5 separate regions of the Homo sapiens genome follow, and all the other regions are reported to be linked to region 1. Evidence: microRNA targets listed by miRTarBase, many of them from high-throughput screens and not tested one by one. Region 1 holds a microRNA gene; each other region holds the end of a gene's coding sequence. Distances are from middle to middle.
What was found. The annotated mature microRNA hsa-miR-132-3p reads UAACAGUCUACAGCCAUGGUCG and lies in region 1 at 4,014-4,035, shown strand. An mRNA with a match to its seed (bases 2 to 7 or 8) in the 3' UTR can be bound and repressed. Matches are read on the target gene's strand: a 7mer-m8 pairs with bases 2 to 8, a 7mer-A1 pairs with bases 2 to 7 and ends in A, and an 8mer does both.

Region 1 (6,004 bases):
CGGAGCGCGAGGGGCTGGGGCGCTGCGTTACCATGGCAACCGGTGAGGTGCGCCCAGATCCTGTCCCTCCGAGGCCTTGGAGAGCTTAGCAACCGCGCTCGCCGCCCCCCGCGCTGTCCTCTGGCCCCCATGGCCCCGCCAGAGGTACCGGCTGAGTCACCGGGCGAGGGGCAGCGGGCGCGGCTACCAGCGGCCCCCGAGCGACACCAAGGTCTCGGGCGCCCCCCGGAGGCTCCCTTTGCTGCGCAGGCGACTTCACGGCTTCGGTGCCTGGCGGAGGCTTCGGTCCAAACGAGTCCGCCTGATTCCCGCCGCTGCCTGAGTCCGCCCCATGTTCTGGATCCATCTTACCCACTCCCTCTCCCATGTCTCCCCATAGCATCCTCACTTTAGAAGCAGTGAGGTCCCAAAGAGGAAAACGGAGGCCTCCGGAGCTGCCGGTCTCTAGGGAAGGCGGACCCCGACATCTCGCCCGAGGGACGTGCTGCGGCCTGAGGTGGAAGTTACGGAGTGTTGAGGGGAGGTGGAGAGGCTCCTCATAAGTGCTCCTAGAGCTGGGCTTTGACGGATGAATAGGAGTTCTTCTACCGAGCAGGAAGGCATTTGTGAATAACAGAATCCCTGGAACAAAGGCTAGCGGCAAGAAAACTGGAGCTCTAGTAGGCCAAATCCAGACTATGCAGGGCCTCTCTGACCCCATCTCTTTTATCTTTTCTCTTTTTGATAGAGTCAGATCCCCCACCCCCGACTTCCAAAGAGCCCCTCCGCCCCATGTATCTTGTGCAGTGGAGTCTGTGCATTGCTAACCTGCCCCAGGGGTCTGCTGTGCCCACAGTCTTTATTCTTCAGCGTTCCCCCACATCCGCTCCCCAAGTTAACTTACTGCCCCTAACCCCATCCTCAAGCCCTCATTGCTTCTGTAAGGGAGGGTCTCACAGCCCTGCCCCAGCCCAGGCCCCTAACCCCATCCTCAAGCCCTCATTGCTTCTGTAAGGGAGGGTCTCACAGCCCTGCCCCAGCCCAGGCCCCTAACCCCATCCTCAAGCCCTCATTGCTTCTGTAAGGGAGGGTCTCACAGCCCTGCCCCAGCCCAGGCCCCTAACCCCATCCTCAAGCCCTCATTGCTTCTGTAAGGGAGGGTCTCACAGCCCTGCCCCAGCCCAGGCCCCTAACCCCCTCCTCAAGCCCTCATTGCTTCTGTAAGGGAGGGTCTCACAGCCCTGCCCCAGCCCAGGCCCCTAACCCCCTCCTCAAGCCCTCATTGCTTCTGTAAGGGAGGGTCTCACAGCCCTGCCCCAGCCCAGGCCCCTAACCCCCTCCTCAAGCCCTCATTGCTTCTGTAAGGGAGGGTCTCACAGCCCTGCCCCAGCCCAGGCCCCTAACCCCATCCTCAAGCCCTCATTGCTTCTGTAAGGGAGGGTCTCACAGCCCTGCCCCAGCCCAGGCCCCTAACCCCCTCCTCAAGCCCTCATTGCTTCTGTAAGGGAGGGTCTCACAGCCCTGCCCCAGCCCAGGCCCCTAACCCCCTCCTCAAGCCCTCATTGCTTCTGTAAGGGAGGGTCTCACAGCCCTGCCCCAGCCCAGGCAGGGTGAGGACCGCCTTGCCCTCCTGTGCACTTCACTCTTCGACCTTTCTCTCCCTGCCCCGCTCTTCCGGCCATGCCTTGCACAGCCCTCCCCATCCTGGTCCAGCTCCTCGTCTGAACACACTCCTCTCATTTAGACCCTTCCTCCATCTCGATGGAGCCAGGCTGGGCCAGGACCATGCATTTCCCCGCTCCCAACCAGGGGAACTGCCCCACAAGTCATGGGCTCTCCCTGCCAATTCTGGTCTCCGGGAACATTAACTTCTCCAGGAAACCGTCCTCCTCATCCCCTGGGGGCCCCTCTTGGCCAAGCTGCTGGTCTCCTTCACTCTCTATTACCCTAACGTGAGCTCTGGGAGCGTCCATCGTGCCACAAATGGTCCGAAGGTGGGTCCTGGATGCCAGGCTCTGGAGCGTGGCACTGACAGCCTTTCCTCTCTCCCTTGCTGAGGCTGCCCATTCCTCTCACCCCTACCTCTGGCGCGTTCCCCCAGCTCCCTCATAGAGGATCCCGTTGCTCATCATTTCTGGGGAGGTTGGCCCACCTTCCCCAACTTCTCTGCCGTCCCTCGGGTCTCCAGCTCCTGGGTGGTACCTGAATCCCCGCTGGGCCTTCCCTCCCAGGCCCAGGTTCCTCCGCTAAAGACTCCTGGGCTACTTTGGGCTCCCCTACTCTTCTTCTCCCGGCCCCCGACGCCACAGCCCTCGCTGCGCCCCAGGCCCCCACGGGAGTCCAGCTTCCTCTCCTGCCCACCCTGCAGGACGAGAGGGTGGCGACACCGCAGTGGCCTTGCGGGGTGTGACGGCAGAAACGTCAGGTCCAGGAACTGAGGAGGGGGAAGGGGCTGCCACGTGAAGACCCCCAGGAGCCGCGGGGCTCCGGAAGGAGAGCGTGAATAAGCTCGAAGGGCCCGCCGCGCCCCTCCGCGCCGCCTCCCCGGCCCCAGGCCCGCGGTTCCGGAAAGTTAACCCCTTGTCGGCTGGGCAGGGGCGCGGCTCCCCCTACCCCGCCGCCGCTTCCGCGCCCCCTCCTCCCCTCCCGGTCGCCTCGGTCCCCACCCCCCGCCTCGCCACTATAAATAGCCCCTTTTCCCATTTCCTAAATTCCCCGCTGACGTCGGCAGCGCGTCAGTGTGTAGGAGCCGCGGCCGCATGAATGAGCCGCCGCACGAGTACTACGCGCGCCTATAAAAGCCGCCGCGCCGGCCAGGCTGCGGGAGGCGACCGGGCAGTGGCGACGCGGCCCGCCAGGTAAGCGGGACGGACCAGCCGCGGAGGGACAGATGTGCGGACACGGACGGGAGGACGAGGAGGGGACGGGCAGGCGGCGGGTGGGGCGGCCCCTCCGGGGTGGGGATGGGGGCGGACGGGGGGCACCGGGGTCCCCTCGCGGCTGCGGAGCCGGGGCCAGAGACGACACGAGCCCGCGCAGCACCTGCCGGCGCCCGATGGACACGCAGCTACTTCGGAGGAGCATCGAGTGGAGGACCGACCTCGGAGACCCCCCCCCGGCTTTCTTGGGGCTCCTGCGCCATTCTCCCAGGAAAGTGAGGCGAAGGTGCTGGCGCCCCAGGAGACGCGCCCCCTCCTCTCCCTCCCTGCGGCGCGGTGACTCAGCCTCGCTGCCCGGGCCGGCTGAGCGGGGGTGCAGGCGAGAGACGGACGCCCACCCCCGCTTCCCCGGCCCTCCTGGGACCCCCGCCCCGCATGGCGTCGGGCGCCCCTTCCCGGCAGGTCCCGTCCAGCGGGTCCCGCGGCGCCCACGGCTTCCCGCCTCTGCGAGCGGAGCTGTCCTCTCAGGACCGGGGGGGCGGGGCCTCCCAGGTCCCGCCCCGCCCCCACGCCCCCGCCGGAAGTGCCCCCTCTGGGACATCTTTGACGTCACGGCCCTCTGACGTCAGGGGCCGCGTGCCTGGTCGCGAGCGCCGGGCGGGGCAGGGCGGGAGACGCAGGGGAGGCGGAGCAGCAGAGCCCCCAGCCGGGGCAGCCGGGGCGACCGGGGCACCCCGCCCGGACAGCGCGCCGGCACCTTGGCTCTAGACTGCTTACTGCCCGGGCCGCCCTCAGTAACAGTCTCCAGTCACGGCCACCGACGCCTGGCCCCGCCCCAGGACCGCGGCCCCGGCCGCCGCCGCCGCGCCCGGGGACCCCCAGTCCCCGTCCCTCAGGGCCCCGCCCCCGGCCCGCTGCCTGCGCCGCCGCTGTCCGCGGTGCTGATCAACGCAGGCGCCGCCATCGGGCCGCCCCGTCCGGGTCCCTAGGGGCTGCGAGGGGCGGTGGCCCACGCGCGCTCCTCAGCCCCCGCCGCCCCGCCCGCCCCCCCGCGGCCCTGACGTCAGCCCGCCCCGCGCCGGCGCCGTCCGCGCGCCCCGCCCCCGCGTCTCCAGGGCAACCGTGGCTTTCGATTGTTACTGTGGGAACTGGAGGTAACAGTCTACAGCCATGGTCGCCCCGCAGCACGCCCACGCGCCGCGCCACGCCGCGCCCCGAGCCGCGGGCTGGGGACGCGGAGCAGAAGGAGGCGGGGGCGGCGAGTCAAGATCCCACGTGCCCGCGCGGGTGGCAGGAGGTGCTGCGCAGGGAGGCGGCCTCCCGGGGCCGGCGGCTGAGTCCACCGAGGCTCGAGCGCGCGCGTCCTGCGGAGTGCGTCTGGCGGCCAGCCTGAGGCCGTCCTGTCCTCCCGGCCAAGGTATCCCAGCCAGGGCTCGGCGAGAGAAGGGGTCGGGCTGGGACTCGGGTTCTTTCGATTTCGGTGAGAGGGAAGCCACTGGGACCAGGAGGCTTGGAAGGAGGTTTGTCTCCTGGGGCCTGAAGACAGTAGAGGGAGGAAAGTTTTCTGAGATACTCCACAGCCCCGTTCTTCCAGGAACCCCTAGCTGAAGTGGGCATTGGGCGAAGAGTAAACTCTTGAATCTTTCCCTCTGAGCTAGGAGGATAAGAAGGGTCCCCAACCCTCTGGAAGCCAATGAGCTTGTAAAGTTAACCTGGTCCGCGAAGCGTCTGAACAGATCAGCCTGCTCACCTCAGCCTATCTCTAGGTGCTGGATTCCAATCTGAGACAGTTTCTCAAATTAGCCCTAAAGAGGAGTGAATACCACAGGGGCTGAAGTCCTCTGGTGCGGATGAAGTGTGAACAAGGATCTCTAAAAATATTATTGTATATGTCGCCTGCCTCTGCCAACATCACCCACTACAGGGGATGTCTATTGAATATCAGGTGTGAGACTTCCCCAGAGATAGTGTTGGGAATGGTTAATGCAACCCAGCCCACGACACGTTAATCCAATTTTTCTTAACGTCTCACGCCCCACCCCCTCCTTCACTCCCCACCCGGCTCCTTTGTGAAGTACTTCTAAGACACTCGTGCCGGTTTCCCAGTTAATCAACACCCACATGCTAGCCATCCCACCTCCCCAGGGCCCCGAGGTCTTGCAGATTAAAACGCACTTGCTTCTGGGTTCCAGGGGATGTCAGTGGGTGGACTGCAGTGGACTGCTGGGTGTAGTGCTCTGGGAAGCCAGAGGTCCAACCTGGCATTATCAGCAACTGGTGGTTAAGGGGCCATATTCTGTTTCTGAGCTTTCTGTAAAACGGGATAATAATCTCTTCTCCTCGGCAGGTGCACTGTGAGGATTAAATAGGATCATGTAAGTAAAAATCCAAAAACAGCAGAATGTTATTTTGATCTTAAGTATTCTGTTAGGCTACTACATGTTTGTGAAGGGGTGGTGTTGGGAGGGGACCCCAGCTCTGTGCACTTAGGCAGAATGAACGGGATGTGGGGGGTACACCTTGAGCTTTAGGCTATATATATTTATTGTCTAATATATATATAATCTATATTATATATATGTTATACATACATATACTTTTATTTTTTTTCTTCTGAGACAGTCTCGCTCTGTCGCCCAGGCTGGAGTGCAGTGGCACTATCTCGGCTCACTGCAACCTCCGCCTCCCGGGTTCACTCTGGGCCTGGGGCTGTTGAGAGGTTCCTTGCTAAGGGGGTTCTCTCTCCTAAGAGCTCTAGGAATCCAAGGTGGAATCAGAGGTGGAAAACAGAAATGGTTGGGATATTCTGAGAAGAGGTCAGAATGTGGTCAGAGGGGAAAGAACCAGAGGATTGACCGTACGTCAGGGTTGTTTAGCATCTTAGAAATCATTTAGGGCAGGGCACAGTGGCTCACGCCTGTAATCCCAGCACTTTGGGAGGCATAGGTGGGAGGATCTCTTGAGCCCAGGAGTTCGAGACCAGCCTGGGCAATACAATGCGACTCCCATCTCTACAAAAAAGAAAGAAAGGAAAGAAGAAAGGAAAGAAAAGAAAGAAAATTAGTTGTGCACACCTGTAGTCCCAGCTACTTGGGAAGTTGAGGTGGGAGGATTGCTTGAGGCTGGGAGGTTGAGGCTGCAGTGAG
Region 2 (6,004 bases), not on the chromosome of region 1:
GCCACGGCGTAAGGGGAGAGGTAGGCAGTGCCTGGCTGTCATCAATCACGACACACCCCCCTTTGTCTGGCCTCAGCGGCGCCTGAACCTGCAAGAAGGTGCCAATGATGTGGTCTTCAGCGTGACCACTCAGTACCAGGGCACCTGCCGCTGCAAGGCCACCATCTACCTGTGGAAATGGGACGACAAGGTGGTCATCTCTGACATCGACGGCACCATCACCAAGTGAGGCCCACCCAGCTGTGGGAAGGGGAGGGAGAGGGGTTGTGGACTCGCCTCCCTCTGTGCTGGGTGTGGTGGGGAGTGAGAGGAGCCCTCCCTTCCTGGTGGGCCATCCTGGGGCTGGAGCTGGGCCACGTGGAGCTGCCTTGGAGTAACCCTTCCTCTCTCACTCTAGGTCAGATGCTCTGGGCCATATCCTGCCCCAGCTGGGGAAAGACTGGACACACCAGGGCATCACCAGTCTCTATCACAAAATCCAACTGTGAGTGCCTGGGCTGGGGCTGGGGCTGAGGCGAGGCCCCCAGCTCTAGAGAGGGAGTGACAGGACAGGACATCTTGGGGACCAGCAGGGCCCACAAGGCAGGCTGCCAGGGCAGGTGCCTGGAGTGCTGAGACCTCTCTATTGGCCCGCAGTTCTGGGAAAGGCTCATCCCCTGGGGCTGTGTTCTAGGATCAGGGCCCACCTACTGGCCTGCAGCCGGAGGGGAGGCCCTCTCCATCCTGGTCCACCCAGGCCTCAGGACTCTGTGCACCGTCCAGCTGAGTCCACTGCCTGGCCGTTCTCTTCAAGTCCCCTCCCTGCAAAGGTTGGAACATCAGAGTCCCACAGTTGGGCTGGGCAGGCTAAAGCCAGAGAAACAGATGGGGGCTGGCTGGTCTCTGATGGCTCTATGCCACCCTGTCCCCCACTCTCAGAAATGGGTACAAGTTCCTGTACTGCTCGGCGCGGGCCATTGGCATGGCGGACCTCACCAAGGGGTACCTGCAGTGGGTGAGCGAGGGGGGCTGTAGCCTCCCCAAGGGCCCCATCCTTCTGTCTCCCAGCAGCCTCTTCTCTGCCCTCCACAGGTAACCACCCCTACACATACAAGCCCGTGGCCCCCTGGTGGGGAAAGGCAGGCCCACTGCCAGGCCAGCCTTAGCAGGCTGGCATTAAGCTCTCAGGTGGCAAGGAGGGTGGGGTCAGACCCCCCATCACCTGAGCCTGCCATCCCCTCTGGCTTCTTCCCTACTTTGGCCCCCTTCCCTGCTGTGGTTCTGGCCACCCCAGAGAGGTGATCGAGAAGAAACCAGAGGTGTTCAAGGTCGCCTGCCTGAGTGACATCCAGCAGCTGTTTCTGCCCCACGGACAGCCCTTCTATGCTGCCTTTGGGAATAGGCCCAATGTGAGTGTGTCCCCTCCACTCTGCTGAGCCACCTCTCCCCAGCTGCCTGCAGGCCTCCATTCCATGGGCCCCTCCTGTCTCCCACAGGATGTCTTTGCCTACCGGCAGGTGGGCCTGCCTGAGTCACGCATCTTCACAGTCAACCCCCGGGGAGAGCTCATCCAGGAGCTCATAAAGAACCACAAATCCACGTGAGGCTAAACCCTGCCATGTTCCCCATGCCCTACCACGTCCCCCTGCCCTGGCTTCTCCCTGGGCCCCAATTTTACCTCTTACCGGGGAGTCTGTCCCTTACTCTGGGACAGACCCATGGCCAAGGCCATCGTTTGGTGGCAGCTCAGGCTCAGTGCTGGCCCCCTTCTGCCTGTAGGTATGAGCGGCTTGGTGAAGTGGTCGAGCTCCTCTTCCCACCTGTGGCCCGTGGCCCCAGCACAGACCTGGCCAACCCTGAATACAGTAACTTCTGCTACTGGCGGGAGCCACTGCCTGCTGTGGACCTTGATACCCTGGACTGAACCTGCCCTGGCTGGCTCCTCCTCCCTGGCCCGGCCCAGGACTGGCTAGGTGTCCTGGGGTATAGGAGGGTGGGAATTGGAGTGTCATGGGGCAAACCCACTGAAGGGGAAGGAGGAGGCTGCAGGTTGGTTGGCAGCTAGAGAGACTCCCCCATCTTCCCCGTCATATTTTTGCCAGCTAAGCTGCAGCTGCTCCAGGCGTCAGTGTGGCACTGTCCTGGGGCAATTAGCTTGTCATCTGGGCCCTTGCAGGGTTCTTTTTTTTTTTTTTTTTTTTTTTTTCCTGAGACAGGGTCTTGTTCTGTTGCCCAGGCTGGAGTGCAGTGGCATGATCTCTCGGCTCACTGCAACCTCCGCCTCCCGGGTTCAAGCGATTCACCTGCCTCAGCCTCCCAAGTAGCTGGGATTACAGGCGTGTACCACCACGCCTGGCTAATTTTCGTGTTTTTAGTAGAGATGGGTTTTCACCACATTGGCCAGGCTGGTCTCGAACTCCTGACCTCAAGTGATTTGCCCACCTCGGCCTCCCAAAGTGCTGGGATTACAGGCATGAGCTACCATGCCAGGCCTCCTTGCAGGGTTTTCTATGCCCTTGATATCTGTCTCCCTGTCAACCTGGGACCTTGCTGTAAGTCTTGATAGGACAGGGAGAAGAGGGAGGCCCTACCGAGGCTCGAGGCTTCAGTGAAGGGTGACAGCAGTGGGAGTGTGGTACAGCCTCTGGAAGGACACAGTGTTCTCCCCGCCCCTTGTCTGGGAGCCAGGACTGTACCCTCCGAAGCCAGACATCACTGCCAACATATCCCCCTTGCTGGTGCCCTGGCATCTCAGCACATGACACACACCCACACCTGCAGGCTGTGGTTCCGGCTTGGCCTGCTCCCCGTCCGGCTGCTGCCGCTGCCTCTCTCCAGACCTCGCTTAAGGACAGTCCCAAACTCAGCTGGGGCAGGTGTTGGCCTGAAAGTCCTCCCCCAGCCTCTGCTGGCCAGCTTGGTGCTCACAGCTGCTGGGTAAGCTCTTGCCTAAGGAGCTGTGGGAAGCAGGGCTGATGCCCCAGCAACCTCTCCTCCCACTGTCTTTGAAGAAAGTAGCTTTAGACCGGCTAAAAGCTTTAATCCAGAGCCTGCCCTACTCTGATAGTACCAGAGTGGAGGGCAGAATACCAAATGTCCAGGAACCAAAGGCAGGGCTGTGGGGACCTGAAGAGCAGCACAGTGGGGCCCGTGCTGCTGTGGGGGAAACTGAGGCTGGGAGCCTCAGCAGAGACCGGTGTCAAGAGTCTCTGGGAACTGCATAGGCCTGAGGAACATGCATTTTCAAGTTGTCCATTGATGGTTTCGTACCTGAATTTCTCACCTTTTGTGAACATCTTGGGAGGGTGGGGGTTTTGCAGGGGTGTTAAAAGCAAGGCTTGGAGCCCCTTTCCTCCAGCTGGTGGCTCCTTCTCAGGGCCTGGCCTCATTCAGGCCACTTTGTAGAGAAATGCCCTGACCTCGCAGGAAGGATTTCCCCACCCCCAAGTGGAAGGAAGAGGACAGTGTGGGCACCAGAGGGCCCTGGAAACATCTTAGGGGAAGGAAAGGAAAAGGATAAATTTGGAGTGGGGGGTCTCTAAACAGATTGCCTGGATTCCGTTCTTTCCTGGGGTTCTACAGCTGCCTAAGCCCTCACCTTGGGGGAGGATCAAAGGGAATAAAGAGAACTCTTGGCTGAGTCTTTGTGCTTCTGTTCTGTCCTGAAGGACACGTGAGGAGCCAGAAACATCTGGCAGCCTCTGGTCCTTAGTTCAGATACAACATCCATGAAGCTGCCAGGTGTGAGGAGAGTTCCAGTGGGCATCACCTTCCTGCACAAACCTAGTCCTGATGGCTGCGAAGAGAAGCCGAGGGGACAAGGAACAGAAGCCACCAAGGGCTGTGGACTGTTGCTTGTGGGCACAGGGCAATGCGGACAGGCCACTGGCTGTGGGCCTGTAGGTCTCTGCACAGTTGCTGAGGCTGGTGCTGACTGCCTGCAGGGTCCTCTCAAGGCCTTACATACGGACACTGATCAAGGCCAGTTTGCCACAGCAGCTGCCCCTGCCAGCCATGCTCAGGCCCTGCAGCTGGCTGTCCAGACACTGATTTGCTGACAGTGGAATGTGAACTCTCTCAAGTCTACCCTGGCCTTCAAGCATGACATCCTTGCCTTGACCGCTGTCCGGAACTGTCCAGTTTCTGCAGCACTGTGCATGGGTTTTGGTGGCTGGGACAGCCACGTGGAGGATTCCCTCAGTGGCCTCCTTAGTGCCATTTGGGCTAGCCAGGGAAGGCTGGAAGGCGCTGCTGGATAAGGCTGGGCTCTGGGGTGATGTTCCCCGAGTTGGTGGGATCTAGGGGTTGGGTCCTGGCCAGCCTGTCTAGTTGGCTTGCCCTGGCCGCACCTGCTCAGCCAGCTGGGCCTGGCAGTCCAGTAGGTCATCCCGGAGGCGGGCAATGTCCTGCGTGTGCTGGGCCAGCGTACGATTCAGCTGGTCCACATGGCTCCACAGGCCCTCTCTGGGCCTCAGTGGCTCAGTGGGCAAGCTGTCCAGGCCCGCGGCCAGCAGGCCCAGCCTCCTGCACGCACCCTCCACTTGTGCCACCCGCTGGTCAAAGTGTCCCACTGTGTGCTGAAGTTTCTGGGCTGTGTCCTGGCAGCGGCTCAGCCCACTGGCCACCTTGGCCACACCAGCCTTGAGTTGCTCCAGCTCCCCACGCAGGTTCAGGACCTGCCTGTGGCCAGCCTGAAGCCTGGAGCCTTGGCTGCTGACCTGCTCCTGGATGGCCTGGACTTCGGCTTCCACCTTGCGTTCCCGCTCATCCAGGGACGTGTTGGCAGCCAAGAAGGCATCAGAGTACTGGCTGACAGAGTCACTGAGGCCTGTGAGCGACTTGCTCACTGAGTTCAGATTGACCTTGAGCAGAGTGATCTCGCCTTGAAGTGAGCTGCCCGTCCCTTCTGCCAGCTGTCCCTGGACCTCGGCCACAGTGCCATTGAGCTGCTGGAGCAGTGCTGCGTGGCTGGCCACCTGGCGTAGGAGGGCCTCGCTCCGGCTCTGCCAGGCCTTCACCTCTGCCACGAGGCTGTCCAGGATGGCTGAGGTGGTGCTCGGGGTGCACGAAGTCTCCAGTGAGACCAACCGTTGCTCTAGCACAGCCAGCTCTGTCTGTACAAGGGGCCGAGCTGACCTGCCCGGAGAGGCGCTGTCATGGCTTAGCTCCCCAGCCAATGTTGCTAGGCGCTCCTCGAGGCTCTGCACGCGCTCTTCCAGCATGGTCCCAAAGCCGCCCACTCCCCACCCCCCCATGTCCAACCTCAGACAGCATCCCCTTGCTCCACCCTCTGTCCCATTGAGCGTCTCCAGACCCTCAAGCAGCCCGTCCACACCTCCCTCGAGCATGGCAGCAGAGAGCCTCGTAAGCTCATCCCCGGCCGGGGCACCGGGGCCCCTTTGGGTCTCGGTGACTGCCTGCAGGGCCCTCTCAAGGCCATCCATACGGGCATTGATCAAGGCTAGTTGCCCACAGCAGCTGCCCCTGCCAGACACGCTCAGGCCCTGCAGCTGGCTGCCCAGCTGTGACAGCTCCTGGCGCAGGGCCAGCTCCCGGCCATCAAGGCTCTGGTGCAGCCTCCGGCTGGCGGCCTGACCCTCCTCACATTGCCGCCGTACCTCCTGCACCCGCAGGTCACACTCACTCTGGACGCCTTGCAGCTTCTGCTCAAAGCCATCCAGCAGGCTCCCCCAGAGTCGGTGCAGCCGTCGGTCCACGTACTCCTCCAGCAGGGCCAGGGAGGTGAGCGGGGATGGTGGGGCTTCCCGCAGCCGCTGCAGGTGGGCCTCATGGCCAAGTGCCAGCCCATGCACCTTGTCTAGAAGCTGCACCTTGGTCTGAAGAGTGTTGCTCACCTCTGTCACCTTGCTTAGGATCTCGTCTAAGGGAGGTGTTAGTGGCCCTCTGGCTCTGTCTCCTGGGCCCACAAGCCCCTCAGGGATGACCCCAAAGCCCACAGGGACAGCAGGAGCCCTGGGGCCACCAGTCATCCTGTTGGGATCCTCGTGGCTAGCCACCAGGCCAC
Region 3 (6,004 bases), not on the chromosome of region 1:
TCGCTACGTTTCTGCAACAAACTGCAAAATTGTCCAGTAAGAGTTTGCCCACCACCCTTCCTGGCTCCGTCCCTTTCCTGCCTGGGGAGCAGGCAAGGCCACCTGAGATACCTAAGATACCTGCACTTTAGGTCACCTTGATGGCCGAACGCAGCTGCAGCAGGGCCCATCAAAAAGAGCCTTGTCCGTGCCAACCCCAAGCTGAGTGTTTACGGTGGGGCTCAGGCCGTAGGGTGTTGATCTGGGGCTGCATCCTGTGGCTCCCTGAGATGTCCCAAGTGAAAACCAGCAGAAGGCAGAGTCATTTGATGCAAGGCCATGAGCTCTGCAGTCCCAGTTCCACAGCTTCCTCGCTATGTGACATTGGGTTACTTCCCTGAGCTACTTTCCTCAACTATAAAATAGGTATTTCCACATAGGCTGGCAATGAGGATCTACAGGCCTGATGTCTGCATGTTCACAGTGGCACACAGTGAACAGCAGCTGTGATCATTAGTGTCCTTTTCAAGTGGACTGGATTAAACAGTCACAGATTAGAAGTGATTCTGGTTCAAAGGAGCCATCTTCAGTCCCTAGGCCCCCATTGTAGAAGAAGTGCCTAAAATCTGGGCTTGGGATTTTGGCACATGCTGCTGGGTAGGGTCCTCAGTCTTTCTCCTGATTCCCCATGTGAAGTAGTTTGCAGAGGGACCCCTTGCTTACAAGCTCACAAGGAAACCCCACCACACTCCAGATCGAAGCAACCCTTTTCCATTAAAAAAAAAAAAAAAAATTAGTCCTAGAGCTTTCAGCTTTAGTTCATCAACTGGGAGAAAGGTGGTAGAGATCTTAAGGCCCAGAGAGGTATCTTTCCCTAAAAGTGTGTACTTATTAATGGATGGCAGGTATGAGAGATTAAGCCTATGACTATGGTCAGGGTGTGGTGTATGGCCAGGGTCAGGATTCAGTCTGTGACAAGGGTTAGGGCTCAGTGTGTGACAAGGGTTAGGACTCAATGTGTGACCAGGATCAAGGCTCAGTGTGTGACCAGGATCAGGGTTCAGTGTATACCTAGGGTCAGGGCCCAGTGTGTGACCAGGGTCAGGGCTCAGTCTGTGACCAGAGTCAGGGCCCAGTGTGTAGCCAGGCTCAGGGCTCAGTGTGTGACCAGGATCAGGGCTCAGTGTGTGACCAGGATCAGGGCTTAGTGTGTGGCCAGGGTCAGGGCTCAGTCTGTGACCAGAGCCAGGCTCATTTAGAGACAGCCCTCTCACACTTGGTTGCTACCATCAACCTAACTGTTCACAGCATGCTGCCACCACATCATGAATATTAAAAATGGGAACAGCAGCCTCCAGTTCAGTGCAGAGATTAGGTTCCTCATGAGTAGAATGAGATCAGAATTCCCCAGGGCACACAGCATGTTTGAAAGGACGAACTCCTGTCCCATCACTGGCAGTTTGGCTCTTTAGCAGGCCTGGGTTTCCAGCACATTCCTGCTCCTCAGGGCCTGTCTTAGCCATTCAAGACCCAGGGTCACCTAAGTGGTAGAAGCCATTCTAGGGAAGGAGGAGGAAGGAAGAAGGGGGTATCCAGGAAACAAAGGAGGCTGCTGGGGGCTCGGGGAGGCAGGGAATCCCTCCTGCTGCTGGGAAAGGGGGATGGGAACAGAAACAGCATCCCACGTGCCAGGCGCCTGGAGCAGCCAGGAGGGCTGTCGGCAGGGCAGATGGAGAAGCAGCCTGCGCGGCCCTCCCAGCTCCCCGGGGGCCTGTGGGCAGCAGGGGGAGCCAAAGCCCTTCCTTCCAAGAGCTCTTTACATAAGTGCTTGGAAAGGCCGGGCCTTATTAGAGTGTCTCAGTCTCTGTGACCCTGACCGCAGGCAGGCAGCTGGGCCAGCGTGCACAGGAAGCTGGACAGAGCGTTCCCAGAAAGGCCACGGGACTGACGCCTGTGGGTTTCCATCGTGTTTCTGGAGGAAAAAGGAGGCTTAAAAAAAAAAAAGTACTGAGTTAGAAAAAACAAGAAAGTATTTCCAGACAGTAGCAGCTCTGCTAATGGCCTAGAAAACAATCTGGGACTAGGGCATGGGGAGGGGAATGTGCTGAGACTGTGCCCTGGGTGGGTGGGAGTCCATCAAACCCCTCCTTTTGGAGCTGGGCTGAGGGGGTCGGAACTTTCTCTTGAGGGAAATGTAGGCCCATGCCTGCCCTGCCACGAGGGATCTGGGCTGTGGGAGGGACGCCCTGGCTGAGGAGGCCACGGGGGCCTACTTTGCAGCCCCTCATTGACCCACTGTCTTTCCTTCCTCAGATCCTGATCTCCGGGAGGGACAGATGGCCAATCTCTCCCCTTCCAAAGCAGGCCCTGCTCCCCGGGCAGCCTCCCGCCGAGGGGCCCAGCCCCCAACCCACAGGCACGGAGGGGCATCCCTCCCTGCCGGCCTCAGGGAGCGAACGTGGATGAAAACCACAGGGATTCCGGACGCCAGACCCCATTTTATACTTCACTTTTCTCTACAGTGTTGTTTTGTTGTTGTTGGTTTTTATTTTTTATACTTTGGCCATACCACAGAGCTAGATTGCCCAGGTCTGGGCTGAATAAAACAAGGTTTTTCTACTCTGTGGCTCTGCATGCGGCCTGCTGGCTGGCTGGCCAGCCACAGCTAGTTTGGGCCTGGGGGATGTCCTTAGGCATCATCCTTCCCCTCGCCAAATGTGGAAAGGGCAGCCACCACCCGGTCAGGACCACAGTGACCATGAGGGCGCTGAGCCCATCGTGGAAGCCTGTGGGGTTGAGCCCTTGGCCAAGCCTGTCGCATGGGAATGGGACCACATCCGACTAGGGGAGGGCCCTGCAGCGGGGTGGGCGGCACCAGCCTGCTCTCCCTGCTCAGCCCCTGCTCCTATCTGGGCTCGTGTGCCCACTGCTGCCCCTTCTCAGCCTTCAGCCTCACACTCCCACCGGTCCCCCTCCTGGCCCTCTCACTCTCACACCGTTCACTCTCCACCAGCCACCCACTCCCTTACAATTGCAGGCTCCCGAACTCAAGTCTCCTGAAGGCCAGGTGCTGTGCTAGGGCACACGCAGGAGCATCGTAGCTTCTGCCCTCAGGGAGCGCATAACCACAGGGAACGGGGAGCACGCGTTGCCCAGTGAGGCAGCACCTAGGGGTTCTGGGGAGCCTTCACATGGGAGAGAGCCTCCTTCCAGGCAGGGAGGGGAGAAGAGGATTCTTGGCAGAGAGACAGCATTGAGCAGAGATCATGAGGTGGGGCTGCAGGCCGACAGGGTGTGAGTGGGAGATGGAGGGAGGCCCCGCAGCCCTGCAGCCCCCGTCCCCTGCCCTGGCTGTGGCATCCCAGAGGTCCTGGACACTGGAATGGACCAGGAAGAAGTGAGAGGGTGGTGCCTCTCCTCCTCGAGGCCCTGAACAACGAGCCCTCGGGATGCCTCCAGACCCACCTGCTTCCCTGTGGGGGCAACACCAGTGAGAAAGGGAAAGAGACTTTGTCCAAGTACCAGGGCTCTGGGTTCCAGGGCCAATCCTGCTCACTGCTGTGTGACTGTGGGCAAGTCAGACTTCATCTCCGGGCCTCAGTTTCCTCATGAGTAAGATGGGAATGCCCTCCTGCCTGGCTCCCACACTGACATGGAGAGTTGATGAGCTACTGCTGCAGGGGAGGTGCCGGGGGAGCTACAGGGTGTCAGCACCCACCCCTCCAGATCTTGGTGAGCCCCAGCCCATTTGCAGAGGTCCTCCAAGAAGGTGTCCCCTGCTTTTGGCTCTGATGCGATCCTTGCCTCAGGGTCCCTGGTAGCAAGGAGGTTTTCTGGTGCAGTAGAGAGGGAGGGCTTCTTGGAGCCATGCTATGCATCCAGGAGGGTTCTGGCCCAGTCCCCTGGAGCCCTTGGGCCACTCACCAGCCCAGGCAGCAGGGTGGAGTGGGTGTGGCTGCAGCCCTCCCTCGGCCCTTCCTCTGCAGGTCTGGCTGGGATTTAACTCTGCTGACAGGGTAGGTGCCGCAGCTCTGCCACTCTCCCTCTGGAGCTGGACCAGGACGGGTGAGAGGAGTACAGGCACATGCCTGTCATCCAGGGCTGCCATTCTGCTGCATCCCCTGCCGGTGTGTGCTTCCCAAGATGCTGTCCTTATTGCAGCCCCACCCCCTCTCCTTCCTAGATACTCCCAGGAGTGAGCTTGGGAGGGGGTCAGACAAGGTCAACCAATTCCAGACTGTCAGGAGGCCCGTATGAGGTAGAGACAAAAGCCCCCATTTCTCAGGTCAGAAAACTGAAGCCTGTCTGAGACCACAGGCAAGTTCAAGGCAGACACAGTGCTGGAGCTCACGTCTCTAAGCCCTAGGCCAGGGCCAAATGCCGGGTGTGTGCAGTTTTCTGGGGAGATCTGTACCCTCAGCAGATGAGCTATGGCCCTGAACACAGAATTGGATGGAAGGAGAGAGTAAGGGTGGCTTTTCCAAAAAGCCCACACATCACAAAGTGTGGGGAGGTGGGGAGCACACAAGGAGACTCCCAGACACAGTGCTCCCGCGTGCCCATGAACCTTTGGCCTGAAGTTCAGATTCTAGGGGGGCTGGTGGATGTCCCCAAGCCTGCCATCAGAGTGAGGACACCTGGGCCAGTCCTCACATGCTGGGAGGACTCTGAGATTAGATCTCTGGGGAGGGGCTTCAGATACCCCTTTGCCCCCCAAAAAGCAGAGGAGGCTTTCACCCAAAGGAGAAGAGAGATAGAGAGAGAAGAGAGAAGACAGCCGTGACGCGCAGGGACCAGGGCAGCCCTCACCGCTTCCTGGCTGACCTGTCAGGGCCCTATCAGTGCAGCTTCACGGCACTGCCCAGCAGTGACGGCCCCTCGGGAAAGGAGATGCAGCTGCTCCCACCTCAGGGGGCAGGGTTTCCTCAGGTATTTTGACTCCATGTAGAATGGCAGAGTCTCCCTGAGAATGGGGAGAGAAAAACTGTCAAGACGGCAGGGGCCCAGCAGGCGCTGAGCTGAGGAGGGCGGCTGGGAGAGGAGTGCTCTCCCAGCTCGGCCTCAGCCTCTTGAGGTCTGTCTGGCTGTCACTGCATGGAGGAACAGCCTGCTTGTTCCTTGTTCTTGCTGTCACCTGGCTCGGGCCCCTCCCTAGATAGAGCTCACCTGTTGGGCTCACCCCACCAAGCCAGGCCCAGGGAGGGGTGTGTGAGGCCCACTGGAGGCCAGGTCACGTGACGCAGGGACTCAGGCCCACTGGTCCCTTCACCCTTCCGTTTGCCCCTTCAAGGCCAGCTGAAACCCCGATTTCTCGAAGCCTTCCTTAACCATCCCCTCTCCCCTTCAACTGGGGTGCACTGTGTGGCCTCATTCAGGACTCTCCCACCCCCACCCTGCCACGGACACACAGGGGCATGGGAGGAGGCACCCGAGCCTTGCATGCTGGACAAAGGTTACATAGGTGCCATCTCAGCCAGGTGCAGTGGCTCACGCCTGTAATTCCAGCGCTGTGGGAGGTCGAGGCGGGCAGATCACTTGGGGTCAGGAGTTCGAGACCAACTGGCCAACACGGCAAAACCCCATCTCTGCTAAAAATACAAAAATTAGCCAGGCATGGTGGCACGCGCCTGTAATCCCAGCTATTCGGGAGGCTGAGGCAGGAGAATCGCTTGAACCCAGGAGGCGAAGGTTGCAGTGAGCCAAGATTGTGCCACTGCACTCCAGCCTGGGCGATAGAGTAAGACTCTACCTCAAAAAAAAAAAAAAAAGAAAAGCAAAACAACAACAACAAAAAAACCATAGGTGCCATCTTCACTCCTGACCCAGCACCTCCTTCTGGGCTGCACAGACCAAGAGGGTCTCTGCTGGTACACTGGGCACTGGTGTGCAGGAATCCACCTGGGCTGTAAGGGCCTCAAGTCACCTGCCCAGCATCCCTCCCTGTCCTCTTCTTGCTCAGCCCCAGGGCTGGGGAGCTCACTGCTTCTCGAGACATTTGCTGTTAGAAACACCTTGAGGTGAAACA
Region 4 (3,000 bases), not on the chromosome of region 1:
TCAATTGCATACATGAATTTGTCTTGGCCACCGTGCCAAGCTCTCCACTGCCTGCTACGATGTGGGACCAGGTCCTCTCTGGGCCTCAGTTTCTTTAACGGTAGACAAGCAGAGTAAAGGCTGCCTCACTGCGCCCTGAGAGGCTGCATCGCGCACTCTGTGACCTCGCTGTTCCGCCTGGCGCGCGGTGGGAGCCCAGGGCGGTATCCAAATTCTCCGAATTCTTGAAAGTAAGCGGAGAAGACTGCGCAGGATCTGAGCGGGTCACACCCAGGGGGCTGCGTGGGCACCCTGCGGTCCCCTGCCCGCCCGCCGGCCCCGCACTCACGCTGCGCGTTGCAGTTGCCTCAGCAAGTACGCGACCCGGGCTCGGGCGGCAGCGGCCATGGCGCTTGGAGTCCTCTTCCCTCCTCGGGTCGCTACACCGCCCCCTCCGCCGGCCAATCACGGAGGCTGCCCGCCTCCCGCCCCTCGGCCGCGCCTGCCCACCCGCTTCGCGGGGTCACCTGTCTAAGCCTCAAGCCAGTCGGGCTCAGGGCCATTTTCCCACGGAGTAAGAACCAGAACGCCAGCTGCCCCAGCGGCGCTCGCACCATCCACCCTTGAAATTGCCGTAGAAGGTAACTGCTCCGTAGGCCTCGGGTTCTGCCTTAAATCTCCTTACTTATCAACTCTATTTTTCACATGTTGAGGACTTGGGGGAAGGAAGAGGAACAGGGATATTCTTTTTCCACTGTTAATCCTTTAAAATGTTACTTTCCCTTCTAAGAGTATTTTAAGTGATCAAGACCCTGCCTTTAAACTGTTTTAACAGTAAACAAGAACCTAGCAGAGCCCGAGGGTTTTTGTTAAATACTGTGTGAATGGCTTTGCTTTTGATGAAAGCAAAATCAATAGTTAAAACTCTTACATCAATAGTTAAAACTTGCCATGATTAGACTATGCTCCGGGAGGGCTTGGCTGTGCCATATCTGCCATGTCCCAGTGGAAAAGCTGATTAACGATAAAGCTCAACTTTATCAGAAAGTATCCAAAGACAGTAACAACTAAACATTTGCATTTTTAGTAATCTGTTATTATGAAATCTGAATCCTTTATGGGAGATATTAAGTTTTACAGAAATGAATTTACTGCGATCAAACTGGAAAAGATTGATGGACAGGAAGACCAAGGACAGCTATATAAACATTTCACCTCCTAATCAAACCAGCTCAGGCCAACTTGACAAATGAATCAAAAAATAATGTTCTATGAGAACACATGTACACAGGGAGGGGAACAACACACATTGGGGCCTGGGGGCAGGGGATAGAAGGGGGCAGAGGGACTTAATACTTAGGTGATGGGTTGATAGGTGCAGCAAGCCACCACAGCACACGTTTACCTATGTAACAAACATGCACATCCTGCACATCTACTCCGGAACTTAAAAAAAGATAATAATGTCCTAATTAAGGATCTTATGGGTCTGTTTCTTTCTTCCCCCAAACAAAACTATACCTGACGTCAAGCTTAAAAACAAACACACACACACAAACAACTGGGGATATAAACGTAGAGAAAGATTTAAGTGTTTTCTGGATTAATGAGGATTATTACCATTAGTCAATGAAGCCCAAATTGATCATTTACAGGAAATCCATGTGTTCAGTGTTGAAAGGCATAAAATCTTTTTAAAAAACAGACATCAGTTTTACTACTTTGAATATTATATTTGATACCAAAAGAAGTATAAGTTTAGAAGTGGTATCACTGAAACCATTATAATTGAACTGCTTTTTTTTTTTGAGATGGCCCCTTCCTCTGTTGCCCAGGCTGGAGTGGAGTGCAGTGGCGTGATCTGGGCTCACTGCAACCTCCGCCTCCCAGGTTCAAACGATACTCCTGCCTCAGCCTCCCAAGTAGCTGGGACTACAGGTACCAGCCACCGTGTCTGGCTAATTTTTTTATTTTTAGTAGAGATGGGGTTTCACTGTGTTGGCCAGGCTGGTCGCGAACTCCTGACCTCAGGTGATCCGCCCGCCCCGGCCTCCCAAAGTACTGGGACTCTACAGGAGTGAGCCACTGCGCACGGCCTGCTTTGTGTTTTTCAGAAAGTAAACAAAAATAATCTGTACCAGGTATCCAGGTAACCGGCTTCAAGTACAATTTCTACCCAGTAGTCAGAAAGTTAAAAGTCACACTAGATAAGACATCTTTATTACTTAATCTTTAAAACAGTCACTTGCCTATTCAATTCTGAAACTGTTTGTTTTCTTTCCCTCCCCCGCACTCCCGCTCTGATACACAAACTTGTTGTAAAAATAATGCAGAAACATATACGTCAATCTAAGTCTCTGAAATATGGCCAACTCTACCTCGCCGTATATCCAACATTAAAAAGAAAAAAAAAGGCTGTTTAAGAATAGAACTCATTCCCGGTTTCCACCAAATTATTTCCCTAATTCTTAAATCCTCAAATAAGTTCTTAATCTCCAAAGTCTCGGTTGTGGGAAAAACATTAATTTGTGCAGTCCAACACTTACATACTTTCTTGACGGAAGGGCAATCCTGTCCCTTTAAACTCAATGAAGGCAGCGGCCAGGTCCTTCTGAGTCCCCGTATAATTGCCTAGAACTTAACATTTAGTATTCATAGTCCTTGGTTTACAGACGGGTCCGACAGTTAGAAACTATTACTTCCTCCTCTTTCCTCCTGGGCGCTGTCCTCCTTTTCTCTTGCCACCCAAGCCAGGCGGCCCAGAATTCATCTTGCCTCCCAAGCCCCCTTTCCTCTTCCCTCCCTGGCTGGGCGGGCCCCCTTTCCTCTTGCCCCCAGGCCCCTGCCGGCCTCCCTTTCTCTTGCCCTTCTGGCTCATTTTCCTCCTCTTGGCGGCCTCCTCCTGGTCCTCCTCCCTCATCTGCTTATTGGTGGCCCTAGTCACATCCAGCTGAGGCTTCTTGCTGTTCATGACACGAAGCAGCTCCAACTGGTTCTTTTTCTCGGCTGCAAAGTCCCCGA
Region 5 (6,004 bases), 65 Mb from region 1:
CCGACTGAGTGTGAATCTGGGGGTGGAGCCCAGCATCTGTGTGTAACAAGCCCCGCGCATATTCTGATGGGCCTTGAGATGAAGAACCACTTGTCAGGTGCCCAATAAAGCACGGCCTAAGCCACCAACCCCAAATCGGGAGTTTAGGAGGGGCAAAGTCCGTCAGCTGGCTTTCGAAACATGTGCAAGGTGTTTTGTCACCGCTTAAAAGGCAGGTTCAGATTCATCCAAAGGATTTGAAAACTTGGTCCACACAAAAACCTGCACACAGATGTTTAGTTTTATTTGTAATTGCCAAAATGTATAAGCAAGGTGTCCCTCAGGAGCTGAATGGATAAACTGTGGTACAACCAGACAATGGAATATTACTCAGCACTAAAGAGAAATAAGCTATCAAGCCATGAAAAGATGTGGAGGAAATGGAAATGCGTATTACTAAGTGAAAGAAGCCGATCTAAAAAAAAAGGCTACCTACTGTGATTCCAACTATATGACATTCTGAAAAAGGGAAAAACTATGGAAACCGTAGACTCACAATTGTCAGGGGATTTGCAGGAAGATATGAACTGGCAGAGAACTGTGGGGCGGTGAAGTATTATGGTAGTATAATGGTGGATACATGCCATTATACATTTGTCCAAACACACAGAATGTACAAGAATGAACCGTAAACTACGGACTTTGGGTGATAATGGTGTCAAAACAGGTTCATTAGCTGTAAAAAATGTGCCACTCTGTGGGGGATGTTGACAATGAGGGAGGTGTGAGAGCAAGGAGGATATGGGAAATTTCTGTACCTTCCACTTACTTTTGCTGTGAATCTAAAATTGCTCTAAAAATATAATAAAGTCTTAAAAGACAAAACAAAAAAGTAGGTTTAGAGAGAGATGATTTGGGGTAAAAATGAAAATTATGGCTTTTTGTTTCAGACAATGAGAACTGAAAAGAGAAGTGATCTTTTAAAGTATGAGTTTATTCTCCAGGTTTTCTTAAATACCCACAAATTAGTGTTTTTATTGCTGCTATATCCAAGAGCTGAAAACAATTTAAAATATGTACTTTTATCACATTTAACACTTACAAGAGAGAAAATGGAACTGTTTGAATTTTAAAGATGTTTTTCAGATTCAGTAACATATGGAAATTGAGGATAATCATAGAAACAGCTATTGAACTCTAAAATAAAAAAATTATATGGAAATAAAAGGTATTTCATTTGAAAAATGGCTCATCACCTCTCCTGCTGGTTAATACACTAATGACAATGAAATGGAATCAAGTGTTATCTTCTCCACATTTAAAACAAAGTGCTTCTTCTCCTGATTGCCAGCTTTAGGTCTGAAATGTAAAACAGGATTAATTGAGGTTCCGAACAACTCAAATATTTCACTATTGTACTTTATGCTAATGAATTATTTTGTAATACTAAGAAAATAAATTGGTAAATACCTCATATATTTGCTGGATTAATGTTTGACAGGAAAAAACACGAAATGGATGAACAGCTGATCGAGTCGAGTGCAATTTGGTCACTGGGACACAGTTACAAATAGCACTGAATCATAATACACAAAGAGCCTAGTGTGTGTTAAAGAAAGACGAAAGAGGAGTTGGGTGCAGTGGCTCATGCCTGTAATCCCAGCACTTTGGGCAGCCAAGGCGGGTGGATCACCTGAGGTCAGGAGTTTGAGACCAGCCCGGCCAACATGATGAAACCATCTCTACTAAAAACACAAAAATTAGCTAGGTGTGGTGGCAGGCGCCTATAATCCCAGCTACTTGGGAGGTTGAGGCAGGAGAACTGCTTGAATATGGGAGGCAAAGGTTGCAGTGAGCCGAGATCGTGACACTGCAATCCAGCCTGGGCAACAAGAGTGAAACTCCGTCTCAAAAAATATGAAAAAAATAAAGAGGAGGAACACTTGCAATCTCTATAGCAACCTATTTGGCCAAATAGTCCAGGTTTGACAAGCCCACAGGTAATGAGTCTCTAGAAAGATGAAGTTATTGAGAAGCTAGTTTCAAATTAGCTCCAATTTTATTTACATGTTAACAATACACAATTTTATCTTCTATCCTTTTCATTCAAAGGAAAATTAAAACCATACTCTGTTAGTGTGAACTTCTGTTTCTGAACTTTCCAGTTTTGTTTTTTTTTTTTTGAGACGGAGTCTCACTCTGTCACCCAGGCTGGAGTGCAATGGTGTGATCTTGGCTCACTGCAACCTCCGCCTCCTGGCTTCAAGGAATTCTCCCACCTCAGCCTCCCAAGTAACTGGGACTACAGGCACACGCCACCACGCCCGGCAAATTTTTGTATTTTTTTTAGTAGAGACAGGGTTTTGCCATGTTGGCCAGGCTAGTCTCGAAATCCTGACCTTAGATGATCCACCCGCCTTGGCCTCCCAAAGTGCTGGGATCCACTGCACCCGGCCTTTTTTGGTTAGTTTTAAAAAGATAAGTGATAGCAGATGTTGATGTTATTAGTGTGACCAATGCATTGAATTTCCAAAGAATAAAATCAGATTACTTCAGTACTGTATGTCATTATTCACAATGACTCACAGGATAAATATGACAGATATCCCACAACTGTCTTCAGTCCTGGGATCATAAAATAGGACAATTGATAATCTTCCATTAAGTGGAAAATTAATTAGGAGAAATGCCATTTCTAGAATGCTGTTTTTCTTTTTCTCTTCATTTGAATTTTTTTAAAGTAGACCTCACACTTTCTTTATTTAAGTATCATTTTAAATAACCTTCTAACATTGTTTTTTCTATTTTCTCTGAAATAAATCAAATTAAACTTGCAAAATTCGTTCACACCAATTCATCTCAGGTGTTTCTTTGACAGCAAGCTACTTTTAATTCCGTGAAAATATTTTAATACTACACCACTTACTATGAGGGTGGCCTGACGTCTTTTTGCCATTTTTTTAAAGCATTAAAAAAAATTAGGTTATCCAGTGTTCATATAATGGAACTAAAAGTTCCTACAGAGATAATGAATTTGGAACAATAATGATGTAATCAGACTTACAAGTTAAAGCCACAAATAAGCCTTATAAAAACAACTTTATGTTAAATTTAAACCCATATAAAGAAAGGGGAGAGGAAGAAGAGCAAAAAAAAAAAAAAAAAAAAAGTAGTCACTATCCCTATAGAGCGGACTTAACACCCAATAAACTGTGTCAATTATGTCAGCTGATTCTGTTGAACAACTGATCAAGTGAGAGGATGAGGGCTGAAAGCAATCAAGCTACTGTGATTGGAACCAGCCGGACTCAAAAAAAAAAAAAAAAAAGTCTACAGTTTACCAGCATACACACTCAGTCTAGACTTTCCGCCACAATATCAAAGTACAAATTCTTCACAAATCACAACTCTATCCCAAATGTTCTTGTATGCTCTATGTTGCTTTTCTATTCTACTAAATGACTGATAGCTTTACAATGAGATTTGTTTTATTTAAAAAACACTTGCCAAATCACTACCCCACAAAATGTTGAGAATCAGAGGTAACTGTAGAAAGGAAATATGTATATACTGCTTTTATTATTGGAATATGTTTGTTAGTTGAATGAAAACAAACAGTAGCTAAAAAGGTTTCAAATGATAGAAAAACATATCTGGGTAAGTTATGACACAACTTTTTGTGTATTCAGACGACAGAAATCTGTATTTTTGCACCAATTGCAAATGCAAAGTTAACAATGAACTTGGGGAACTGAAAGGTCAAAGGGAGTCTCAAACATATTCACTATTTTAAAATTTAAGACAAAGAAGCTTAGAAAAAAAACCCCAACATATACACCATTATAACAGTCTTTTTTTAATGACTTCCAATTTTAACTTTTTTCTAAAGCACTAAGACCCTTATTGTAGATTATGTATCATCTCCTCTTTGGCTATGAGATGCGTAGTTTTGTTAACCAGAGACATTAATGAGTTCAGTTTCTGAGACCAGTCATTTAATAAATTATTTGGATCCTTGGGTCTCTGGAAGTTGATAATTCCTGCTAATCTGTCTACTTTAGCAAAGATGGTCTTGTTAACTACTAGATTTGAGAGAAAGGCTTCGGACTCCTGCAAGAGAGAAAGATAAATTGGATTAAGACAGGATAAATTACAGACAATAAACAAAACTTCAGAAAAGCATTTTCTGAACTCTTCATCCAAGAATATGCAGGGGAATTCATTCTTAAGAGTTAGTAACACTCAGCTGGGTGTGGTGGCTCACACCTGTAATCCCAGCACTTTGGGAGGCTGAATTGGGTGAATCACTTGAGGTCAGGAGTTCAAGACCAGCCTGAGCAACATGGTGAAACCCCATCTCTACTAAAAATACCAAAATTAGCCAGGCATGGTGGCACACGCCTGTAGTCCCAGCTACTCAGGAGGCTGAGGCAGGAGAATCGCCTGAACCCTGGGAGGTAGAGGTTGAAGTGAGCTGAGATCGCACCAATGCACTCCCACCTGGGCGACAAGGTGAGACTCTGCCTCAAAAAAAAAAAAAAAAAAAAAAAAAGAGTTAGCAACTGCTGACTTCCTATAATAAGTACTTATTTTACTGATAGTCTAGGGAATGAATAGAATCTGAGTAGACTCAGTCAGGGGTGAGTTTGAATCTGCCTCCTTGCAAGCTCAATACTGCTGGTATCCATGCCAACGGCAAGTTGGTCTACTCCCTTTTCTACAAAGTTTCCCCTTAAAAGGCAGTATGGTACAGTTAATTTGTTTCCAGAAATGCTGGGTTAGAATATATGCTCTGCTACTTGGCAAGTATGTACCACGGACAAGACACTTGACTTCTAAGGACTCTGGTACTCTCATTCATAAGTGACAAGAGCTGACAAGCTGATCAAGGAACAAACCTTCCAACTCTAATGTTCCATGAGTCTTACCACCTAAACTGTCACAGATCCTTCTGGGGACAGAAATGGCTTTCAGGCCATTACTACACACTTGGGTTAACTCCTCTTTGTGTGCTATGCATTTTGTCAACATAGAAACATGGACCTAAAGACAACACTGTTCCAACAAGACCTAGGATCACTTGATACTTAAGTTAGTTTTTGGTACTCAAGATTGCTTGGGAAACTATTACTCTATTACCTAAACATAAAATTAAATCATAACATTGATTTTCTTACTCAATTTTTACAAGTCAACATTCAAAAGGAATGCCTACAAATAACTCAAAGTTGATTACTACTTACATCAACAGATAGATCCAGAAGCTGTGCCATCCTTTTCATTGTTATCCGAGTATAATACTTGGCCATTATTCTAATATTCTGGGGAGAGGATAGAGAGCAGGGAGAACACGTAACATTTGTCAGTAAGTCTAAAAGTCCATTTATTTTCATATCCAAGTAAGTTTACTTAAAATGTTAGACTCAGAGCTTTTATTTTTCTACAGTCCATCACTGGAGCAAAGCTAGTTCTAAGTTTCAATAACAAAACTAAATACTTAGATATTTTGGTTTCTGTAGTTATTCTGAATTACTATGAATATTCTACACAGCTCTTTAAATATATAGTCAAAATATATGCCTGTCTTAACTAGTGGTTAAAAATTATAATTGTACTGAAATATTTTTGCTGAGTGCAAGAATCTAAAGTTAAGATTTTCTAATTATAACACAAATGTTTTAAAGGCTAAAATCTAAAAAATGATTGGAGATCGATCGGGTGCAGGGACTCACACCTGTAATCCCAGCACTTTGGGAGGCTGAGGCAAGAAGACTGTTTGAGGCCAGGAGACCAAGACCAGCCTGGGAACACAGCAAGACCCCATCCCCACAAAAAATTTAAAAATTAGCTGAATATGGTGGTGCATGCCTATAGTCCTAGCTACCTAGGAAGCTGAGGGGGGAGAATTCTTTGAACCCGAGAATTCAAGGTTACAGTGTGCTATGACTGTGCCACTGTACTCCAGTCTGGATGACAGAGCTACACTGACTCTCTTTCAAAAAAAAAAAAAAAAAGATTAGACATC

Region 2: the mRNA of EMILIN3 is a reported target of hsa-miR-132-3p. The part of its 3' UTR that is shown has no 7-base or 8-base seed match.
Region 3: the mRNA of LOXL1 is a reported target of hsa-miR-132-3p. The part of its 3' UTR that is shown has no 7-base or 8-base seed match.
Region 4: miRTarBase lists RRS1 as a target of hsa-miR-132-3p. Seed matches in the 3' UTR shown: 7mer-m8 at 2,216-2,222.
Region 5: the mRNA of PSMD12 is a reported target of hsa-miR-132-3p. Seed matches in the 3' UTR shown: 8mer at 3,823-3,830.

Annotation. Positions count from the first base shown.
Region 1 is chr17:2,047,960-2,053,963 of GRCh38, reverse strand. It overlaps MIR132 (microRNA 132), which reads left to right and starts at 3,956; the gene lies at 3,956-4,056. It overlaps MIR212 (microRNA 212), which reads left to right and starts at 3,584; the gene lies at 3,584-3,693. It overlaps LOC124903896 (a long non-coding RNA gene), which reads left to right and starts at 4,015. Exons shown (of 2, transcript XR_007065576.1): 1 at 4,015-4,803; 2 at 5,206-5,257. RefSeq lists silencers at 1-297, 3,301-3,450, 3,461-4,260 and an enhancer at 1,860-2,755.
Region 2 is chr20:41,356,964-41,362,967 of GRCh38, forward strand. EMILIN3 (elastin microfibril interfacer 3) reads right to left here. Exons shown (of 4, transcript NM_052846.2): 4 at 2,999-6,004. The coding sequence ends at 4,305. It overlaps LPIN3 (lipin 3), which reads left to right. Exons shown (of 20, transcript NM_022896.3): 15 at 77-225; 16 at 398-484; 17 at 919-1,071; 18 at 1,274-1,388; 19 at 1,476-1,579; 20 at 1,759-3,619. The coding sequence ends at 1,903. Among named protein-coding and RNA genes, the nearest start is that of EMILIN3, 6.9 kb to the right of the region's middle. RefSeq lists enhancers at 1,092-1,699, 1,700-2,307.
Region 3 is chr15:73,949,539-73,955,542 of GRCh38, forward strand. It overlaps LOXL1 (lysyl oxidase like 1), which reads left to right. Exons shown (of 7, transcript NM_005576.4): 6 at 1-36; 7 at 2,293-2,598. The coding sequence ends at 2,299. Among named protein-coding and RNA genes, the nearest start is that of LOXL1-AS1, 24 kb to the left of the region's middle. RefSeq lists an enhancer at 2,993-3,676.
Region 4 is chr8:66,429,904-66,432,903 of GRCh38, reverse strand. RRS1 (regulator of ribosome synthesis 1) reads right to left here. Exons shown (of 1, transcript NM_015169.4): 1 at 2,171-3,000. The coding sequence ends at 2,675. ADHFE1 (alcohol dehydrogenase iron containing 1) reads right to left here and starts at 400. Exons shown (of 14, transcript NM_144650.3): 1 at 329-400. The coding sequence starts at 387. LOC102724687 (a long non-coding RNA gene) reads left to right here and starts at 538. Exons shown (of 5, transcript XR_929013.3): 1 at 538-620. RefSeq lists a silencer at 147-566 and an enhancer at 2,323-2,372.
Region 5 is chr17:67,336,964-67,342,967 of GRCh38, forward strand. PSMD12 (proteasome 26S subunit, non-ATPase 12) reads right to left here. Exons shown (of 11, transcript NM_002816.5): 10 at 5,223-5,300; 11 at 953-4,089. The coding sequence ends at 3,880. Among named protein-coding and RNA genes, the nearest start is that of PSMD12, 27 kb to the right of the region's middle.